Linked DNA regions of Homo sapiens: region 1 is linked to region 2. The links come from fine-mapping of genetic effects on plasma protein levels. Region 2 holds a variant in brackets. A gene starts in the other region. All regions are shown on their reverse strands.

Region 1 (10,519 bases), not on the chromosome of region 2:
GTTTAGGGGCATTGTATTGTCTGCATCAACGTTCACTGCATCCACATTTCACAAATAGTTCTACATTATTAAGAATAACATCATGACTCTTTCATTCGTTCTGTAAAGAATGATGCAGCAGGCTGGACATGGTAGCTTCCTAATCTAACATTGGAATTATCTTCATGAAATGATGTATTATCTTTGGTTGTACATTGCTGCCTCACTCTTTTTTTTGAGACAGGGTCTTACTCTGTTGCCCAGGCTGGAGTGCAATGGTGTGATCTTGCCTCCACCTCCCAGGTTCAAGTGATCCTCCTGCCTCAGCCTCCCTAGTAGTTGGGATTACAGGCACCTGCCACCACAGCTGGCTGTTTTTGTATTTTTAGTAGAGATGGGATTTCACCATGTTGGCCAGACTGGTCTCAAACTCCTGACCTCAGATGATCCACACGTCTTGGCCTCCTAAAGTGCTGGGATTACAGGTGTAAGCCACCAATCCCAGGAGCCAGCCTGCTGCCTCCTTCTTTACAGAACGAATTAAACAATCATGACATTGTTTCAAGACAGAAGGAAACGAAAATTTATCGCATATTTTCTATCAGGCATTGTCATAAGCACTTCATGTAAGTTATCAAGTTTAATCGTTACCAATTTTGAATATTTACATTATATGCTAATACAAATAGGTGATATTACTATTCCATGCATAATAAATATTTCTGAGCTTCTATTGTGTGGTGTGCATATGCTGGGTGCTGTGGATATTGAAATAAGAAAAAACAAGCCCCTGATCTCCCTGGAATGAAAAGAGAAGCTCCAGTACACAATATAGTGATGTGTGATATAAGAGAAGTAAATACATAGGAGAACATCTAGCCTTGGTGGATGGGCTAGGAGAAGGGCTGGTGGCTAATTAAGACTTATTTCATTCAGAGAGGGTACATAGAAATTAGAATAGGCAAATAAAAAGGTAACAACTATATACATCACAGCAATAGAAAAGGGTACATGTATTATGGTTAATTCATTGGTGAAAGAGTCATTGGAGATGCAGTCTTAGGCTTGCCGAGCATCTTTATTGAGCCAGGCAATCTTCCATTAAACTGGACAGATCCCCACCTTTCATTTCTCTTGAAATTTCCTAATTTTGTAGTAGGAGAATGGCACATACTATGGAGCTTTTCTTGCTCACAACAGATCACCCAGCAGCCACATTTGACAAAAATTTTGGGGCCAGGGAGTAAAGGTGTGGCCTCAGTGTGTGGGTGCCATATATCTAGGTGTACACTGAAATACACAGATGGCTGGGTGTGGTAGCTCACGCCTGTAATCCCAGCACTTTGGTAGGCCGAGGTGGGCGGATCATGAGGTCAAGAGATCGAGACCTCCTGGCCAACATGGTAAAACCCCATCTCTACTAAAAATACAAAAATTAGCTGGGCATGGTGGTGCATGCCCAAGTCCCAGCTACGTGGGATGCTGACGCAGGAGAATTGCTGGAACCCGGGAGGTGGAGGTTGCAGTGAGCTGAGATTGCACCACTATCCTCCAGCCAGGCAACAGAGTGAGACTCTGTCTCAAAAAAAAAAAAAAGAAAGAAAGAAAGAAGAAAGAAAGAAAGAAAAAGAAAGAAAGAAAGGAAAGGAAAGGAAGGAAGGAAGGAAGGAAGAAAGAAAGAAAAAGAAAAAAACAGAAAGAAATACCGATGACTGGGCTAATTGGATTCTCCCTCTTAGGGATGTGAGATTTGTATGGACAGACACAGAGGCCAGAATTCCACTGAAATTAAAACATTTTAAGGGCTGCATACTACAGAATAAATCCAAGAACACATCTTTGAGAGATTTTTGGAGCTTTCCTTATTCTGCCTTCCCTTGGCTTGTATCAGTCTGTCACTGATTGTACTACTTACCTCAGTCCGTAACCCTCCAACAAATCCAATTATTTTTGTTCTAGATGGCTGAAGTTCATTTCTTCAGATTATAAACAACAACAACAAATAAAACTAGTATAAGTGTATGACTCTCAAATAGGGCCTCAATATTTCAGAATCTTTGATCGCTGGAGTCAAGCACACAATGTCTATTCTAAAAGTTCTAGAATTTTTCCACAATGTGTCTCTGAGGGGGAAGCAGGAAAAAAACATTTCAGTCTCAGAGGAATCATTTTGTAGTATACTCTTGGTCATGCCTATAGGAGTCAGGGACCTAGCCTTTGTTTTTGAGGGAGTTCTAGTTATTGGCAAAGTTATCCAAGTGCAAATATAAATTTTTAAATGTAAATTTTAAAGGTTTCATATGCCCGGTTATTGTCCCAAATGCACATGCAGAAAAATAAGTTGTGCCTGATGAACTAAATGTGGGCTAACCAACAGATTAATCAGAAAGTATGTGTAATTGTAGACAATGAATTTTTTTGTCTCTCAACCTAATGTACAGTTATTTTGAAGTGAAAGGAAACTATATCTCAGGGAATTATATTTAGATTGTCTTCCTTTTTCTAAGAAATAAAAACTGAGTAAAAAAAAGACAAAATTTAAATTCAAATGGGCAAATATATTTTTGTCAAATGTATATTTTTACATTTTCTGCTAGAGTTCAGAAATTTTGTCAGAATAGCTTGCAACCCTGAGGATTCTACTTTCAGATATTGTCATAGTGGTAGGAATCACGCATTTTCCAATTAGTTGAATTCTTCATGAAAAGATAATATTTTAAAAGTCTAAAAACTGGAGAAAAGAGGTACATATAGAGACTGGATTTAGGCATCAGGATGAAAAGATACACTGCAAATTCATCCAAAAAAAAAAAAAAAAAAGCAGATACATCATCACCGAGGAGTAGAATGAAAGCAAGTATCTTCTGATACCTTCCATCTTCCGTGTTCCTAAAGGCGTATTTTAAAATGTGGTTTTACTTAACACGAGCTCTTGTGTTCTTTTTTCCCTACATATTTTTATACAATATAGCTAAATTTCTTCTTCATGTGTTACGGGTAAAAAATCTGTTTTCTATTAGAATTTACGTGTATTTGGTTAAAATTGTTTTTTTAATGACATGTGACCTTCTGGGGAGATTCTTCTTTAATAAGAAAGATGTTATTATTCAGAAGCATAAAATAAATGCCAGTCCACAGTCCTTGCAAACACACAGAAAGAAAAACAAACATATTCCTCAGCAAGAACACTTTTTATTTTTTGTGGCAGAAAAAAAAAAAGAAAACATCTTTGTACTCTTCCTGCTAGGGAACCAATCTAAAATTAGTTTGAGAATCAGAGGGGAAAAAAATCCAAACACATAGGTGAGAAAGCTCTGAAAAGATGAGTAGTGAATAAGCGTTTCATTTTATCTTAACTAGTATGCAGGGGAGGACATAGGTTGTGTGGAACCTGAAGCTACACATTTGGGAGTATCTGCCAAATGTCTATCAGTATTACTTTTTACATGCCTCATGTAGCAGGCCTAGAGGGAGAGCAATCCAGATGTGAGCAAAAGAACAGAGAGCTCTGGGAGGAAGAAATAATGGTGCAGTGACAAAATTCCTTCTGAGGCATTCGACTTTCCTGTCCAGGAGCCTCAGAGTTACAGGCAGAGTTCAATCATAGAAGCAGAGCTTCTAGGATATATAAGGGATTTGACTTAATGCAACTGTGGGAGCTGGTTAAGTACTCTTTGAAAGGCAGCTGTCTCCAGGGATGATGTTGGAGCTTGAAGTACGAACTGCAGTTAAGCGAGAGAGTAGATGAGCGTAATAGAAGCAGGAGCTGGAATCTATGAGGACGGACTGAAACCTGTGTCAGTTCTTGTTGCCTCTGACCTTGGTTGATGTGGGTGTCCTACAGAAGCCAGACCCATTTGTAATGTGCTAAACGAGGCTCCAAATTATATCCAAAGGGAAGTGAAACAGCTGGAGGCTTAGCCACTATCTTAAGGCCAACGAGATACGTTACAGCATGGGAGAGCTGCAAAGATGGCTGCCACTTCCTTTCTGCCTGCCAACTGCTCCTAATGGAAAACATAAGGCAAAAGGAATTCTGGGAACTGTAGTTCGGCCTACCCAAGTTGACACATTACAAAGCACCTCAATTTTTCTTTTCTTCCTCTTTTTCTTTATCCACCTTTACCCTTATTTTTCTAGTTCATATTGTCAGAATCTTTCCCAGAAAGTGTGTGTGAAGGTGGAACTATTTATTGATCATCTATTAATGTAAACTTTCTGCTAGTTACATCAATAATGGGAATACTTAGGATAACTCACTAGTAAAACTGTTTTAGTTTTATTAATTTTAAAATGCTTCTCCATTGAAATTTCTGAGACCTACGTTATGTGCAAATAAACTTTCTAGTTTTTCAGGACTCTGCCTGAGATGACATTGAAACCAGCATTTCAGGAAGGAATTTGATTACCTCCACCTGAGGAAGCTCTGCTAGTTGTGTGGAACGAAGACTGTTCTTAACAACCCCTTTCCTTGATATCTACAATACGCTCCGTTCTAAATATTTTAATAAAGGGCACATTTGAAGTTTAAAATGTTATCATTGTAATCAGAGCATGGAGTTTTATAAGTCCCATAAAAGGGTGCCTCCTGAACTGGGAGTCAAGTTTGGAAAATATAACCATCAGAAATTTATGCTGGTAGAATACAGTCAAGGATATAAGATCATTTGTCTGAGTCTAGTTCCTCATGCAGCCTTAAGTAGACATGTTCCTCGCTGCAAGCTTGAGTGGACTGGAGGCGGCAAGATCTGGAATTAAACCTTCCCACGGTGACTGGGTCAAGTATCAAATAATGGACAGGTGTTCAATCTGGCAGGCACAATACAGGGTCCAGAGGGTTTGGATGAAAATTGTGCTGTAACTGATGTATTAATTGAAGAGTTCTCTGAAAAAGGTCTTCCAAAAGGAAAAGGAAAAAAGAATTGACAGTGTCCGTTTAATGTGTTTGAGAGCCTAATCAGCCTGATCTTGGTGGGACTGTACTTGTTGTCCTATTATATCATGCTTTTCTTGTACTTTTTTCAGCCAGTGATCTCAGGTCTCATTCTCATTTCATAGCTTTGGTGCAGTTGTGCAAGGTCACAACTCTTCTTTCTTGCTTTTTTTCTTTTTCTTTTTTTTTGACAGGGTCTTGCTCTGTCACCCAGGCTGCAGTGCAGTGGCGCGATCTCGGCTCACTGCAATCTCTGCCTCCTGGGTTCAAGTAATTCTCCTCCTCAGCCTCCTGTGTAGCTGGTACCACAGACGCCCACCACCACACCTGGATAATTTTTGTAGTTTTAGTAGAAACTAAAAATACATGGGGTTTTGCCATTTTGGCCAGGCTGGTCTCGAACTCCTGACCTCAGGTGATCCACCTGCCTCAGCCTCCCAAAGCGTTGGGATTACAGGCGTGAGCCACCGCACCTGGCCATAATTTTGACCTTTCCTGATGATAGTTCTTCCACCATGTTATGGCAGTACATCCATGGAATAATGTTACTCCAAGAAAATTTGGCTTTTGGAATTCCTCCACAAAGTATTGGCCCTAGAGTAGTCCTTACTGCCTGATTAACTTTTGCAAGTTTCTCCTGAGGTAATGATGCTAGCCAAGTTTCCGAAAGACAGCATAGTCTACCTTTAGTAGAAAAGAGGACAGATTCTGAGCAGGATTGCCTTTGAGCCCAGCTATACCTCTTGTTAGCTGTGTGACCTCGTGCAAGTCACTTAAACCTCTGTGTCTCAGTTTCGTCATTTGTGAAATGGAGATCATTAACAGTACCTACTTATAGGGCTGTGTGGCTGAGTGAGTTGATAAAATTACCATGTTTAGCACATGATAAGTATACCACATGTTAGCTGCTGTTAATGTTATGTCCCTCCAGTGAGGAAATGAACACAAGGCTAAATTATTGCTTGAATGGGGACAAAGCTAAAGGCATACAAGAAGGAAAGATAAGTTTGTATTTCAAAATATGTCATTTTACCACAGAGATCATTATTGAATTAGCCGAATAATCCCATATTTTTGCTTTTGAAATTTAACATTAGCAGCTTGAATTCTCTACAATTATGAATGTATAATTTCCACTTCTTCTGTGTGTGTGCAAATCACTTCAGTCTAACTGGCTTTTTTTTTCCTTCTTTTTTCCAGTAAATCAACAGGATTACCTTTCCCTTAATAATCTTCAAAATGTCCACGTGAAGGACAGGAAGATGTTTAATGGGAAGACCAAACATCGTCAGTGCTCAAGTCCAGTAGATAACAAAGAACAGAAAGAAAACAAAACTTTGGTATTTTACTGGAATCTGAGTGAATAAATAGGGACCACAGGACAAATGGCAAACAACTGCTTGAGTTACATCAGAAGGAAAGAAGAAATGATGAACCCAGATTTCCAGTAAGAAACTGTTACACAATACGATTAATGGAGCTAACAAGTGCCTATTACACATTAGAAAATCTTCTAGAGGATTTTAAAACAAAAGGAACAACTTGTCCAGAGTATAATCGATGCTTCCAGTTAAATTTCACAATTTTGCACCTCAGGGAATACTTTTGTTTTTCTTAGAGAGCAAATAAACTGACCATTTCACCTTGGCAATTATTAACCTGCCTTGTTTTTTATAACTAGGAAAAATTTGGCTTATCTCCATATTTTAGTTGAGATGACATATTAATTCATATTTTTGTGGGTAAAATGTTATTACCCTTAATACAAAGCAAAGTTTCAGCTGGACTTCGTTTTTACTTAATCTTCAATGGAACATTATTGAAGTTACAGTACAAAAATTCTCTGAATGAACATAATAATAAGTTGTAAAATATATATATCTTTATAAAGATATATTATTGGATCTTTCACAAAAAGTCATACAAGTGGGGAAAAAAGAAAAATATCAGAGTATTGGGATTTGTCCTTGAATCTTCTCTTTTAGCTTTCTTTCAGTTAAACCTGTGTCCACATGTTTGTTTCTGGATTGAAGCCAGAATCAACATTGTCCCTATTTCTAATCAAATAATGGAGAAATAATTACAAATTCCCAATGCAGTTACAGGATCCTGGGAAGCAGAGTGTCTGGATGGAACCTGAGCTGGGTCTCTGACTCACTTCTGACTTTAGGCAAGTTATTTAATGTCTCTGCATTTTTGACATGCTTGTAATAATGCTAATTTATTTCACAGGTATGATAGTAACCAAAACTCAGGTAACAACCATTAGCTTTTGCAAGAAGTCAGGTTGACTAGCAAGGAGTCTGCTTCTGCTACTTGGAGAAGAGATTTAGAATTATGTATCTTTTGTTACAGATATACAGATATACAAATATACAGATATACAAATAAGGTATGTTAGAATTACAAATGAGGAAAATGGAAAATTTTAGAGAACTTAAGATATTCTCAGGAATTATTCTAAAGCTAATCAAAGTAATATAATGACTTTCTAAATATGTATAATTACATTTTGAAATGCTTTATTGTTTATATGCTACCAGACTAGGGGGTGCCTTTTTGATTATTGGATTATCTTAATGGTAATGAGATGAACATTTCAGGACATCAAGAGACAGAGGCCTGTCAAAAAAATTTCATTAGCCCTTTATTTTTTACTAAATCTAATGCTAAGCAATATTTATATACCTTATATAATGTATATATAATCTATAATATATACATAATTATGTATAATAATGTTACGTACATACATATACATATATATACAGTGTGCGCAGGTAAAATTATATGATATATAGGTGCATCACCCAGAGCATTTTCAAAACATACTTCCATTTATGCAAGAGCCAGAATCAAACATTGGAATAAGAAAATTTCTTTTTTAAGCTCTAGGCGTTTTTTGTTGTTGTCGTTTGTTTGTTGGTTTTTTGAGATGGAGTCTCACTTTGTATAATTTCCTTTACATTTTGAATGAATTGCATGGGAGTTTGACGTAAATGATAGGTTTACAGTTTCAGTATAAAAAATTAAAAATAAAATGGACTATATGACAATTTTCACTTCAGAAGTCAAAAAACTTCAGAAACATTTTTCTTTATTGCATTTCTTGAGGGATCAACTATATTTAGCTTTGTAAGGCTTTCAGTGAGTATGGATTCTTAAGAAAAATACAAAAGCACAGTTATATTCCATTTTCAGAAAGAGGAAAAAATTTGGAAGGAAATAGCTTAAAAGGAGTCTCTAAGCTTGTGTTTATGGGTACATTTTTAACTCACTGACTTAGGTTATAGTCCTAAGCATTATAGTCCTATAGCGTTTGTGAATGCTAACTTATTAAACATACTTCGTTCAATAACTTTTTCCTTCCTTTTTATTTCTTTTATATATCCTTTTACAATGCTTGCTTAAAACATACCAGTTTTGAAATGTTTGCATGCTACTAATGTACTTCTGTTTTGTAATTGTTTTTAAAAATTATATATTATTTTTAGAACTTTTCATTTACAAATTTAATGTCTTCATCTTTAAATTTAATGCAGCGTAATTAATTAAATTTTTTTTAAATATAGTGGGGAAGGAATTAGAATTTATAGCATTAAAATTATGTAAAATAATATAGTCCACCAAAGAACAGCCATTTGATAACAATTTTAATTTTATAATAATTAAAAGTTTTGATACTGCCTAAGGCAAAAATATTATAAAAGAAATACAACTAATTGTGCAATAAATGAACAGAATAATTTGATACAACTTTACTGTAAGCCAGATGTGCAGAAGAAATAATGGTTTACTATAATGAATGATGGAGACCAGAATTTCAAAGCAAGTTTCTTAATGCTTAGCATTTCTTCAATATTACAGAGAATGTTGGTTAGAATTGCAAAGGAGGAAAATGGAAAATTTTAGAGAACTTAAGATATTCTCAGGAATTATTCTAAAGCTAATCAAAGTAATATAATGACTTTCTAAATGTAAATAATTACATTTTGAAATGCTTTATTGTTTATATGCTACCAGACTAGGGGGTGCCTTTTTGATTATTGGATTATCTTAATGGTAGTGAGATAAACATTTCAGGACATCAAGAGACAGAGGCCTGTCAAAAAAATTTCATTAGCCCTTTATTTTTTACTAAATCTAATGCTAAGCAATATTTATATACCTTATATAATGTATATATAATATAATCTATAATATATACATATTATGTATAATAATGTTATGTTCATACATATACGTATATATACAGTGTGCGTAGGTAAAATTATATGATATATAGGTGCATCATTCAGAGCATTTTCAAAACATACTTCCATTTATGCAAGAGCCAGAATCAAACATTGGAATGAGAAAATTTCTTTTTTAAGCTCTAGGTGTTTTTTGTTGTTGTTGTTTGTTTGTTTGTTTTTTGAGATGGAGTCTCACTCTGTCACCCAGGCTGGAGTGCAGTGGTGTGATCTTGGCTCACTGCAACCTCTGTCTCCCAGGTTCAAGCAATTCTCATGCCTCAACCAACACAGTAGCTGGGATAAAAGGTGTGTGCCACCACACCTGGCTAATTTCTTTGTATTTTTAGTAGGGACGGGGTTTTGCCATGTTGGCCATGCTGGTCTCAAACTCCTGACCCAAGTGATCTGCCTGCCTCAGCCTCTCAACGTGCTGGGATTACAGGCATGAGCCACCACGCCTGGCTAAGCTCTAACTTTTTAAGCTAATTTATTCACTTCTGAAATAAAGTACTTGATCCCACAAATGCATAAGAAAACTTTAATCAAATAAAAAAATTTTTCAACAAATAACATTAAAGCAAAGTCTAGAAGATACAGACATTTCATGATTTTTAATTTTTGACTCCTGAATATTATCTGGGAGCGGATTAAAATAATGAAAATTTGTTTCCTGTCACATAAAAAAAGAGGACATTATTTTTACTACTAATCCTTAGCAGTTTCATTTATCAAGGAAAAATCCTAATCAGTAATCTATTAAATACATTGGTTATTTTCAGTCAGAAGAACAATTTGAGTTGGAGTCACAAATAAATGGTATTTATGTCATGTCGTTATGCTGATTTCCCAGACTAGTGTAAATATACTTAGTGAAAGTCTCTTTTATTTCTTTAGGCAAACAATTTTCCCTCTCTGAGCCTCTAGTGTTGATGATATTTGACTGAATGATGTCACTTCCTCTAATTATATTTTCTCTGCATGTTCTAGTCTCGGGGAACAAGGCTATTTCTAAAATCTCTTTATATTTTTTAAATATTTTGTTTTCCATCTTTATTTTCTTTTGCTTCCTTATAATAAAATGTTTTTGTTTCTTATTTTCTGTAACATGAAAAATACTTTATGACTGTATGTCTGTGACTATGCAATTGTTTATGTTTAAGAAATTGCCATTTGCATAAGGGCATTTATTTTTTTCCTTTATGCTACTTGAGTTTTGTGATAAATTTTAAAATTAGATAGTTAAAGACACAAGGGTACAAATTTAAAAAGCAACATAGCTATTATAATTTTGCTCAAAAAACATATTTATTGCCAACTGAAAACACGAGTCAAACTAAAAACTTATTATGAGATAGCTATGGTAATGACCTTG
Region 2 (10,677 bases):
CTTGAACCACCGCCCTGCTCCCCTCCCCTGCCCCAGGTCACCGTCTCTGCTGCAGGTGGGACCGGACAGGCCCCTGCGGAATCGGGTCTGGGAGGTTCCCTGGGAGGCCTCCTCTCCCAGGAGGGCACAGCTGGGAGTCAGAGCTGAAAGGAACTTTCCCACCCGCAGGCCTCTCTCCTTTACACTTGGAGAAACTGAGGCCCATGCAGGGGAGGGGCCTGTCCACATCACCACCTCCAGAGGAGCCTTAACCTAGGACAGAACCCACCCTTGGCTCCCCTAGACCCTGCCCACCTCCCACTCAGAGCCCCTCACTCACCACTGTGGGGGACTGACCCTGTAGGCATGAGGGGCTGGTCCTCAGGGCCTGCTGGGTTAGAACAGGGATGTGAGGGCTGGGGCTGCCCTGCTCCCCACATCAGCTCGGCTTCTCCCCGCAACATCTCCTTCAGCCTTGACCCCCTCACCCCTCACCAGCCCAGCCTCAGGGCCTTGGGAGCCTGTGGTGCCTCCCAAGTCGCTGCCCGACTCCCACACCCGTGGAAGCAAGCCCAGCTGAGAATTGGAACGAGGACTTAGATCCACTGAGCATGTCTTGAGACAGGCCTCGGGCTTTGGAAACTCTCTGGACAGAGGCCTCTGAGACTCACCAGCTGTTGAGACGGACCTTGTGGGTGAGGGCCTGGGA[C/T]CCTCCAAGGATCCTGGGTAGAAGGACAAGAGGAGGGTGAGAGTCTGGGGTTGCCCTTGGGTCTCCACATCAAATTGAACCTCTCCCTATATCTGCCCTGCAGCTTCCCAAGGACCATTTCTCTGTCCACCTGGCACCTTCTGGACCCTAGGTGAGGGAGAAGAGCATGGGCATGCCTGGGAGGGCCCCTGTTGTCCTCCTCCCCTCTGAGGGCTGAGTCCCCCACTGGCTGAGCCCCTCTCCCTCCATCCCTGCCCAGAGCTCTCCTGGCAGCAGGGCATGAACGGAGCCACTGAGCTCAGAGAGGACAGGGTCAGGAGCCTCACCTGAGACTATGAGCTCCAGGGGGTCACTGGGGTGTGACAGCAGGTAGTGGGAGAAGCCGTGTGAGCTGAAGCACCTGTAGGTCCCCCCGTGCACTGAGGTCACAGGACTCATGGGGAATTCAGCCTGGTGCTGCTGAGCTCCGTGCTCTGATCTCAGATGCAGTAGGGGATGGGCTGCCCGCTCCTTGATCAGAAGAAAAGTGTCCATTGGGCTCCGTGACTGACACAGCAGGGTCACGCTCTTTCCTGAGGTCACAAGAGGACTCGGCAGGGCTGAAAGGGTGGGTTTACTGTAGGCTCCTAGGAGAGAAGGAGGCACCGTGTTAAATGGGGCTCCCACCTCCCACATCATCCCCAGGGCTGGGCTGTGAGAGGGAGATGCCCCTGAGAGCTGACCCCCTTCCTGAGGGCAGAGCCTGGGGCTGGGACCCCTGAGTGTCCTCTCACCTGTCATCACCAGCTCCAGGGGGTCACTGGGCTGTGACCAGCCTACAGGGCTGCGATAGTAACAGCGGTATCTCCCTGCATAGTCCTCTGTCATGGATGGGATGGAGAATCTGGCCTTGTTCTTGGGCTCCAGTGGGTTCTGTCTGTCCCAGGGTGCTGGGCTTTCCTCTTTATCCAGACGGTACTCCCGAGCCTCCAGGGTCCCCTGACACCAGATGGTCACAGAGTTCCCCCAGCTGATCACAGAGCCTGGCTCAGCCCAGAGGGTGGGTTTGGGGAGGGGCCCTGGAAGAAAATCAGAGGCTGGATCCCAAGACCTTCCTCAGCCCTCAGATCCCAGCTCTCAGCCCCAGGACCCCCCCGTCATCCTCATCAGTCACCCAGAACTGCTGTCTCCTCCCCCAGCTGCCCATGGGTGGCCCCTTGTCCCAGTGAGGAGGAGGGACCTGGGACAGCTGGGGACAGACTCACCTGCCTGCATGTGGGTCCTGGGGCCCAGACTCAGCCCTGGAAGAGAGTTCCCTGTGAGGGATTTGCCCCGGAAGCCTGAGCAGGTCCTCTCTTTACCCTGAGATTTTTTTTTTTTTTTTTTTTTGAGACGGAGTCTCGCTGTCACCCAGGCTGGAGTGCGGTGGTGCGATCTTGGCTCACTGCAAGCTCCGCCTCCCGGGTTCACGCCATTCTCCTGCCTCAGCCTCCCGAGTGGCTGGGACCACAGGCGCCTGCAACCACCCCCGGCTAATTTTTTGTATTTTTAGTAGAGACAGGGTTTCACCGTGTTAGCCAGGATGGTCTCGATCTCCTGACCTCGTGATCCGCCCGCCTCGGCCTCCCAAAGTGCTGGGATTACAGGCGTGAGCCACCGCGCCCGGCTACCCTGAGATTTTTGAGTCTCCTAAAGAACCAGGGCCTGGCTGTGAGGCAAATTTCCTCCAAGACTCGGGTCTCCCCTCCCCCTCTTTAAATCTCACCGAGGCAGAGCAGAGCCGTGAAGGTGGGGATCATGGCGTCTCCTCCCAGGGGCCCCAGCTGTGCAGATGGATGAGTCCTCAGTGCCGGCAGGACAAAGAGACACACAGGGTGTGGCCGCTTGGAGGCTGGGTCCTTCTCGTCATGGGGTTGTTCCATCAGCAGCCCACAGGAAGGGAAACTGCCCTCATTTGAACCCCAGCCTGGCTTTCATTTCCCCAGAGCTAGGGCTGAGGCAGGCACCAGGTTCTCTGCAGACATTTCAGACAGAAATGGGGTCTCTCTGATCCCAGCCTGCTGTCTGCCTGGTCTTAATTCCTCTCTTGACCAAACATCAACCCGTATGTATCGTGTGTTTGCAAAGCGCCTGACACTGGGGGTACATCATTGAACAAGTGAAAAAAAAAAAAAACCAAAAACCTGCATTTTCAGGGTACAGATGAACCATAAAGCTTCCTTTTGCTGCCATAACAAATCACCACAAGCTTAGTGGCTTCACATAATGTAGGTTTATTGACTTACCGTCCCGGAGGTCACAAGTCCAAAATGGGTCTCCCTGGGCTAAAATGAAGCTGCTATCAGAGCCGTGTCCTCCTGGAGGCTCCAAGGAGAATCTGTTCCCTCGCCTGTTCAAGCCTCTGCAGGCTCCCGCATTCCTGCCTCTCCATTCCCTCCAACCTCAAAGCCACCAGTCCCGTTATCTGCCCCCTGCTTCCATGCACTCACCTCCTTCTCTCACTCTGACCCTCCTGTCTTCCTCTTTCACTTACTCAGCCCCTTGTGATTACATCAGGCCCACCTGGGTAATCTCCCCAACCCAAGATCCTTGACTTAATCACATCTGCAAAGTCCCTTTTGCCACATAAGCTTCCCCAACTCACAGGGTCTGGGCCTCAGGAGGTGGACATCTCTGGGAGGTCACTATTCTGCCTCCCACAGGCCTTCAGGGACTCCTTTAACCAAATCTCACATAGAGCACTTCTCTGCGATGACGGAGAGTGGCTGGGCACGCCAGTCGAATGCTTGGTGGGCCAGTACGCAGCCAGGTCATGGTCGGCTACTCATGTCCCATGGGACCTGCCCACTTGAGGCCAAACATTCCATCTCCACCAGAGCCCGGTAGACATCTAAAAACTGTGTCGCAAAACAAAACTCATTCTCTGCAGCGCTAGCACGATGTAGCTCCAAAATATATATATATATTTTTTCTTTTCTGAGATGCAGTCTCACTCTGTCGCCCAGGCTAGAGTGCTGTGGTGTGATCTCAGCTCACTGCAACCTCCGCCTCCTGGGTTCAGGAGACTCTCCTGCTTTAGCCTCCTGTGTAGCTGGGATTACAGGCACCCGCCACCACTCACAGCTAATTTTTGTATTTTTAATAGAGATGGGGTTTCACCATGTTGGCCAGGCCGGTCTCGAACTCCTGACCTCTGGTGATCCGCCCATCTCAGCCTCTCAAAGTTGCTGGGGTTACAGGCATGAGCCACCACGCCCAGCCAAGCATAGATTTTAAATGTTTTCACAGATGTTAGTATGCGGAGTGATGGACATGTTAACTGTCTTGATTCCATCATTCCACAGTGTATACATTTATAACACATTGTACCCCATAAATATATATAGTTGGTGAATTAAATATTTAGTAAAATTATTTTGAAAAGGAAAAAAGCCATAAATACATAACAAGCAAGCAAAAAGGCCAGATAGCTTCAACCCTTAGATCACTGCCTGTGTAAAACACTTCAGGTGGCCAGCTCTCAATAATCATCCATTTGAGTGGGCACGTCCTGCAATGATCTGGAATTGTAGTCTGTCCTAGATGGTGACTAACCATTTTCTGTCTCTGTTCTTCTTAAAAGGATGAGAGGACCTTCTAACTTTAGAACTGAAACATAGGGTGGGAGGGGAAAGAGGAAGCAGAAAAAACAAACCCCAAATTAATTGTATCTAACGGTCAGGAAGGCAAAGAAGGAGAGGCTTGCAGGAGGCTGAAAGTCAAAGTGCCGGGAAACGCATGAACACCACTGCCCTCAGGTTTCCAAGCACCTGCTTTTAGTACCTCATTCCGTATCCTTTTGGGTCACTCTCAGAATCACGGGACAGTATCTCATTTCGAGGATTTCCATGTGTCTCTCCACATTTGTGTGTAAGGACCTTATTGGAAGCTATTTCAGCCAAAGCTTGATGCGTCTGACAGTGGCTGGGGAAAAAGAAACTCCCAGAAATGGGGGCTAGAAAGCCATACACATATTGGCGAGTATCTCCTGTTTTGGCGGGAAGTTCTGGATGATGGTCTGCACATTATCAGAGATCCTGGTGTGGACCTGTCCATATTACCTGCTGTAGTGGTGTCCGCAATGCATGCTGATTTCAGGAATTCCTCTCCTTCTCTCTTTCATAAGGGAACCCTATTCCCTTAAACTTGGTTCCCAAATCAGTTACCTGCGCTCATATCCTTGTCTTAAGTCCTGCTTTCAGAGTAACCTGTGCTAGGCAAGGACTGGGAAATGCCAGGAGGTTTTTCGATGTCATCACCCCTTTTCTAACCGCTCAACATGCCTTGCCTTTACCAGTCCTGGACTTCTTGTATTTTGCTTCTTTTTTTTTTTTTTTTTTGTGACAGGGTGACACTCTGTCATCCAGGCTGGAGTGCAGTGGTGCAATCTTGGCTTACTGCAACCTCGGCCTCCTGGGTTCAAACAATTCTCCTAACTCAGCCTCCCGAGTAGCTGAGAGCTGAGATTACAGGCAGCTGCCACCACACCCGGCTAACTTTTGTATTTTTAGTAGAGATGGGGTTTCACCATGTTGGCCAGGCTGGTTTCGAACTCCTGACCTCAGGTGATCTGCCCGCCTTGGCCTCCCAAAGTGCTGGGATTACAGGCGTGAGCCACCGCGCCCGGCCTCATTTTGCTTTTGTATTCGTGCACTCACCACTCAGTAAATCTTATCCATCCTCACTTAAGAAACATTTAAACATGTCAACCTGTGGCCATCCCAGGACACAAGAGATAAAGGCGAGCAAAGCAGATATACTGGATTCACAGTAACCCAGACTTCATTTCAAATTACCTCCCCTCCTAGAAAATCTAGCATCCTAGCAAAAATTAAGTTGATAAAATCACTACGCAAAAAGTTTAGAGATAGGACCAGTCCCGGGAAGGAAAGATTTAACGCAATAGGACAGGATAAAAGAAATACCCACTGGGTCCTGCACTCACCACCTGGGTGCAATAGTTCCATGTAGCAAACCTGAGCATGTATCCTCGTATCTAAAATAAAAGTTGAAGTTCAAAAAATAAAGAAGAAAAACAGAAAGCAATTGAGATGGAGGGTGGTGAAGAAGCTGAAGGAGAGGTCAGATGGTGATGATGAATTGGTATTATCTGAATGAAGGGATGCCTGGAGGTGGAGAGAGAAGCATTGCAGGAGGTCCTGGTCATAGGTATTCAAACGGGTGGATCCTAAAGCCTTACAAGAAGTAAAAAGACCACAAGAGTCGTTCATTCATTTCCAAGTATATTTCACTCTAGAGTCAAGCTTTTGTGAGATACTGAAAACAGGACCTAGTTGGAATGAATCATAAATTTCCATCTTAACTTGGGGTCACGGGTGTTCTGTGATTCATAAGAACCCATGTTTCATTGTTTCGTTTTCTTTTTTTTTATTATTATACTTCAAGTTCTGGGATACATGTGCAGAACGTGCAGGTTTGTTACATAGGTATACACGTGCCATGGTATTTTGCTGCACCCATCAACCTGTTGTCTATATTAGGTATTTCTTCTAATGCTATCCCTCCCCCAGCCCCCCAGCCCGTGACAGGTGCCGGTGTGTGATTTTCCCCTCTTCGTGTCCATGTGTTCTCATTGCTCAACTCCCACCTATGAGTGAGGACACGTGATGTTTGGTTTTCTGTTCTCGTGTTAGTTTGCAGAGAATGATGGTTTTCAGCTTCATCTGTGTCCCTGCAAAGGACATGAACTCATCCTTTTTTGTGGCTGCATAGTATTCCATGGTGTATATGTGCCACATTTTCTTTATCCAGTCTATCATTGATGGGCATTTGGGTTGGCGTATTTGATTTTATCCAGGGTTCTACAGATGCCAAGGAAGGGGTGCAGCTCTACTTAAGTTTACCTCTTGGTCTCTCCTTGGGACCTCCTCTGACTGTGCCATGCCTGAAACACCAACCCCTCTGTCACCACCAGGATCAATTGCAACTGCTCCATGCACATGAGACTACTGCATAGTCTGGGAGCAGTTGGCCTGGGGACAGTGGGATTGGAAGACCATGGAGGGTAGGAGAGCTCGCAGTCCACACAGCAGCCAGAAGGGAGGATATTTCAACATTCTCAAATCAATAGATATGATATCTCATGTCAACAGAAGGAAGAACAAAAAACATATAATCATGGGCAGGCGCGGTGGTTCATGCCTGCAATCCCAGCACTTTGGGAGATTGAGATGGGTGGATCACTTGAGGTCAGGAGATCGAGATCAGCCTGGCCAACATGATGAAACCCCATCTCTCTCAAAAATGCAAAATATTAACTGGGTGTGGTGGTGTGCACCGGTAGTCCAGCTACTCGGGAGGCTGAGACAGGAGAATCTCTTGAACCCAGGAGGTGGAAGTTGCAGTGAGCCAAGATCGCGCCACTGCACTCCTGCCTGGGTGAAGGAGAGACCCTCTGTCTAAAAAAAAAAAAAAAAATTATATGATCATCACAATAGATGTTAAAAAAACATTTGACAAAATTCAACATCCCTTCATCATTAAAACTATCAACAAATTAGGCCTAGAAGAAACACACCTCAACAAAAAATCCCCAGATAATTCCATTAACAAGTATGCAAAGCATCTGAATAGTTGCTTCTCAAAAGAAAATGTACAGATGGCCAACAGCTATATAAAACACTAATCATCGGCCAAGCGCGGTGGCTCACACCTGTAATCCCAGCACTTTGGGAGGCCAAAGCAGGTGGATCACTTGAACCCAGGAGTTTGAGACCAGCCTGGGCAACATGGTGAAACCTCATCTCTACCAAAAATACAAAAAAAGAAAAAAAAACAGCTGGGCGTGGTGGCATACACCTGTAGTCCCATCTACTGAGGAGGCTGAGGCAGGAGGCTCACTTGAACCCAGTAGGCAGAGGTTGCAGTGAGCCAAGATCACACTACTGCACTCCAATCTGGGTGACAGAGCGAGACTTCATCTCAAAACACAAACAAACAAACAAAAACCCACAATCATCACTGGCATCAAATCGAAACTACAATGAGTATCATCTTATTTCAGTTAAAATGTCTATTATCAAAGAAACATATAAAAACATGCTGGGCTGGGCACAGTGGTTCACGCCTGTAATCTCAGCACTTTGGGAGGCCGAGGCAGGCGGATCACGAGGTCAGGAGTTTGAGACCAGCCTGGCCAACATGTTGAAACCCCGTCTCTACTAAAAAGACAAAAATTAGCCGGGCGTGGTGGCGCCCGCCTGTAATCAGGAGGCTCCTGCTACTCGGGAGGCTGAGGGAAGAGAATCGCTTGCACCCAGGAGCTGGAGGTTGCAGTGAGCTGAGATGGCACCACTGCACTCCAGCCTGGGCGACAGAGTGAGACTCCATCTAAACAAACAAACAAATAAATAAATAGATCAATAAAATAAAATAAAAACATGCTGGTGAGGATGTGCTGACAAAATAACTCTTAGACACTGTTGGTGGGAATATAAATTAGTACAGCCATTATGGAAAACATGGAGATTCCGGCCGGGCGCGGTGGCTCACACCTGTAATCCCAGCACTTTGGGAGGCCGAGGCGGGCGGATCACGAGGTCAGGAGATCAAGACCATCCTGGCCAACAGGGTGAAACCCTGTCTCTACTAAAAATACAAAAAATTAGCCAGGCGAGGTGGCAGGCACCTGTAGTCCCAGCTACTCGGGAGGCTGAGGCAGGAGAATGGTGTGAACCCCGAGGGGCAGAGCCTACAGTGAGCCGAGATCACGCCACTGCACTCCAGCCTGGGCGACAGTGAGACTCTGTCTCAAAAAAAGAAAAAAAAAAAAAACACGGAGATTCCTCAAGATACTGAAACTGCAATTATCGTAAAATCCAGTGAGTTCACTACTGAATATTCATGCAAAGGAAAAAAATCTCAGGACATCACAAGAGTCCCTGCACCCGTGTGTTTATTGCAGCACTCTTCACAAGTCAGCATACGGAATCAACCTAAGTGTCCATCAGTGGATAAAAGGGTAAAGAAAATGTGGTATGTATACACAATGGAAGAGGGGTCATCCATAAAAAAGAATGAAATCCTGACATTTACAGCAACATAGTTGGAACTGGAGGTCATTATGGTCAGTGAAATAAGCCAGGAACAGAAAGACAAATCTCGAATGTTCTCACTCATACGTGGGAGCTAAAGAAGTGGATTCCTAAACAGAGAGAGTAGACTGGTTGGCCAGGTGTGGTGGCTTGTGCCTGTAATCCCAGTGATTTGGGAGGCCAAGGCAGGTGGTTCACTTGAGGTCAGGAGTTCCAGACCAGCCTGGCCAATGTGGCAAAACCCCTTCTCTACGAAACATACAAAAATTAGTTGGGCGTGGTGGTGTGCACTGTGGTCCTAGCTACTCGGGAGTCTGAGGCAGGAGGATCGCTTGAGCCCTGGAGGGTTGAGGCTGCAGTGAGCCATGATTGTGTCACTGCATTCCAGCTTGGGCAACAGAGCAATACCTTGTCTCAAAAGAAAAAAAAAAGGCCGGGCGTGGTGGCTCATGCCTGTAATCCCAGCACTTTGGGAGGCTGAGGCGGGTGGATCACTTGAGGTCAAGAGTTCGAGACCATCCTGGCCAACATGGTGAAACCCTGTCTTTAGCCTGGCGTGGTGGCATGCATCTGTAATCCCAGCTACTCAGGAGGCTGAGGCAGGCGAATCTCTTGAACCCAGGAGGCAAAGGTTGCAGTGAGCCAAGATCACGCCACTGCATTCCATCCTGGGTGACACAGCAAGACTCTGTCTCAAAAAAAAAAAATGTGTAGACTGGTGGTTACTAGAGCTGGAAAGGGTGGGAGATAAGGAGATGTTAGTTACGGAGTATAGAAATACAGCTGGATAGGAGAAATAACTGAGTATTTGACAGTACAGTAGGGGAAGTATAGTTAACAATAATATATTGTGTATTTCAAAACAACTAGAATAAAAGAATTGTAATGCTCCCCAACAAAAAGAAAAGATAAATATTTGAGGTGATGGATATTCTAATTACCCTGATTTTATTATTACCCATTGCATACAAGTATCAAAATATCATAAGTACCCCAAACCTATATACAACTATTATATATGGATAAAAATAAATAAATGGAACTCTGGCACCAACTTTAAGGCATAACGTGTACAAATCCAGGGGATCTATTTAGGGCACTGGTTGTCCTGAGTGTGCTAATTTGATTGTGGCAATCATTACACAATGTATACGTATATCAAATCATCATGTTGTACACCTCAATATATACAATCTTGGTTGATTAAATCATTTTAAGGATAAAAAAGGATTTTTTAAAAAGATAAAAAGGAAAACACTGAACTTCTCTGTGGCTCTCCTTTTTCCCTGCTCAGCTTTGAATAACTGTGAAGGCAAAGACTGGATGCAGGTGACCTGTGCACCCTAGGACCTGGCGTGGGATTGCCAGACTTTAGGTCTTTAGGATTATTTGTTGATGTACAAAGGAAAGCATGGCCCAGAGAACTGGGCTCTGCTCTCAGTTGCATAAATATGGCCCATTCTTAAGGCCAGCAATTAAGCTCCAGGAAGATCCCTAGAGTCAGCTGAACAGAAAATTACAACAAAGTCTCTGGGGCAATTGGGGATTTCCAGGAGACATAGGAGCAGCTGGGGACTGCGTCAGTGATAATGAAATCAGCTGGGTGGATGTAGCCGGGTCTCTAGAAACAGCCAGCGGATGTAGCCGGGTCTCTGGAAACAGTCAGGTGGATGTAGCCGGGTCTCTGGAAACAGCCAGGTGGATGTAGCCGGGTCTCTGGAAACAGCCAGGTGGATGTAGCCGGGTCTCTAGAAACAGCTAGGTGCATGTAGCTGGGTCTCTGCAAACAGGCAGGCAGCTATGGGGGATTGGGGGTGGTCACTGGAAACAGCTAGATGACTGTAGCTGACTCTTTAGTAACAGCCGAATGTAACTAGGTCTCTGGAAAGTCACCTTGAGGACTGAGCTGGGAGATGG

Alleles and levels. Alleles are on the strand shown, and positions count from the first base shown. The strength of an association depends on the size of the effect and on how common the allele is.
For the plasma level of the protein whose gene starts at base 7,005 in region 1, T is the high allele of the variant in region 2 and C is the other (moderate association).

Evidence for each region. PIP is the chance, under the fine-mapping model, that this variant and not a neighbour inherited with it causes the effect. The UK Biobank Pharma Proteomics Project read protein levels with antibody pairs (Olink). The fine-mapping took linkage between variants from a reference panel, not from the people measured, so its PIPs are less certain.
Region 1: it holds the start of FGL1, and the variant in region 2 is fine-mapped to the plasma level of the FGL1 protein (UK Biobank, PIP above 0.99).

What each region holds. Positions count from the first base shown.
Region 1 is chr8:17,892,010-17,902,528 of GRCh38, reverse strand. It overlaps FGL1 (fibrinogen like 1), which reads left to right and starts at 7,005. Exons shown (of 8, transcript NM_004467.4): 1 at 7,005-7,082.
Region 2 is chr19:54,654,823-54,665,499 of GRCh38, reverse strand. It overlaps LILRB4 (leukocyte immunoglobulin like receptor B4), which reads right to left and starts at 2,515. Exons shown (of 12, transcript NM_001278426.4): 1 at 2,433-2,515; 2 at 1,933-1,968; 3 at 1,462-1,746; 4 at 1,015-1,314; 5 at 651-701; 6 at 320-370. The coding sequence starts at 2,466. The variant C/T (reference allele first, on the strand shown) is at 689.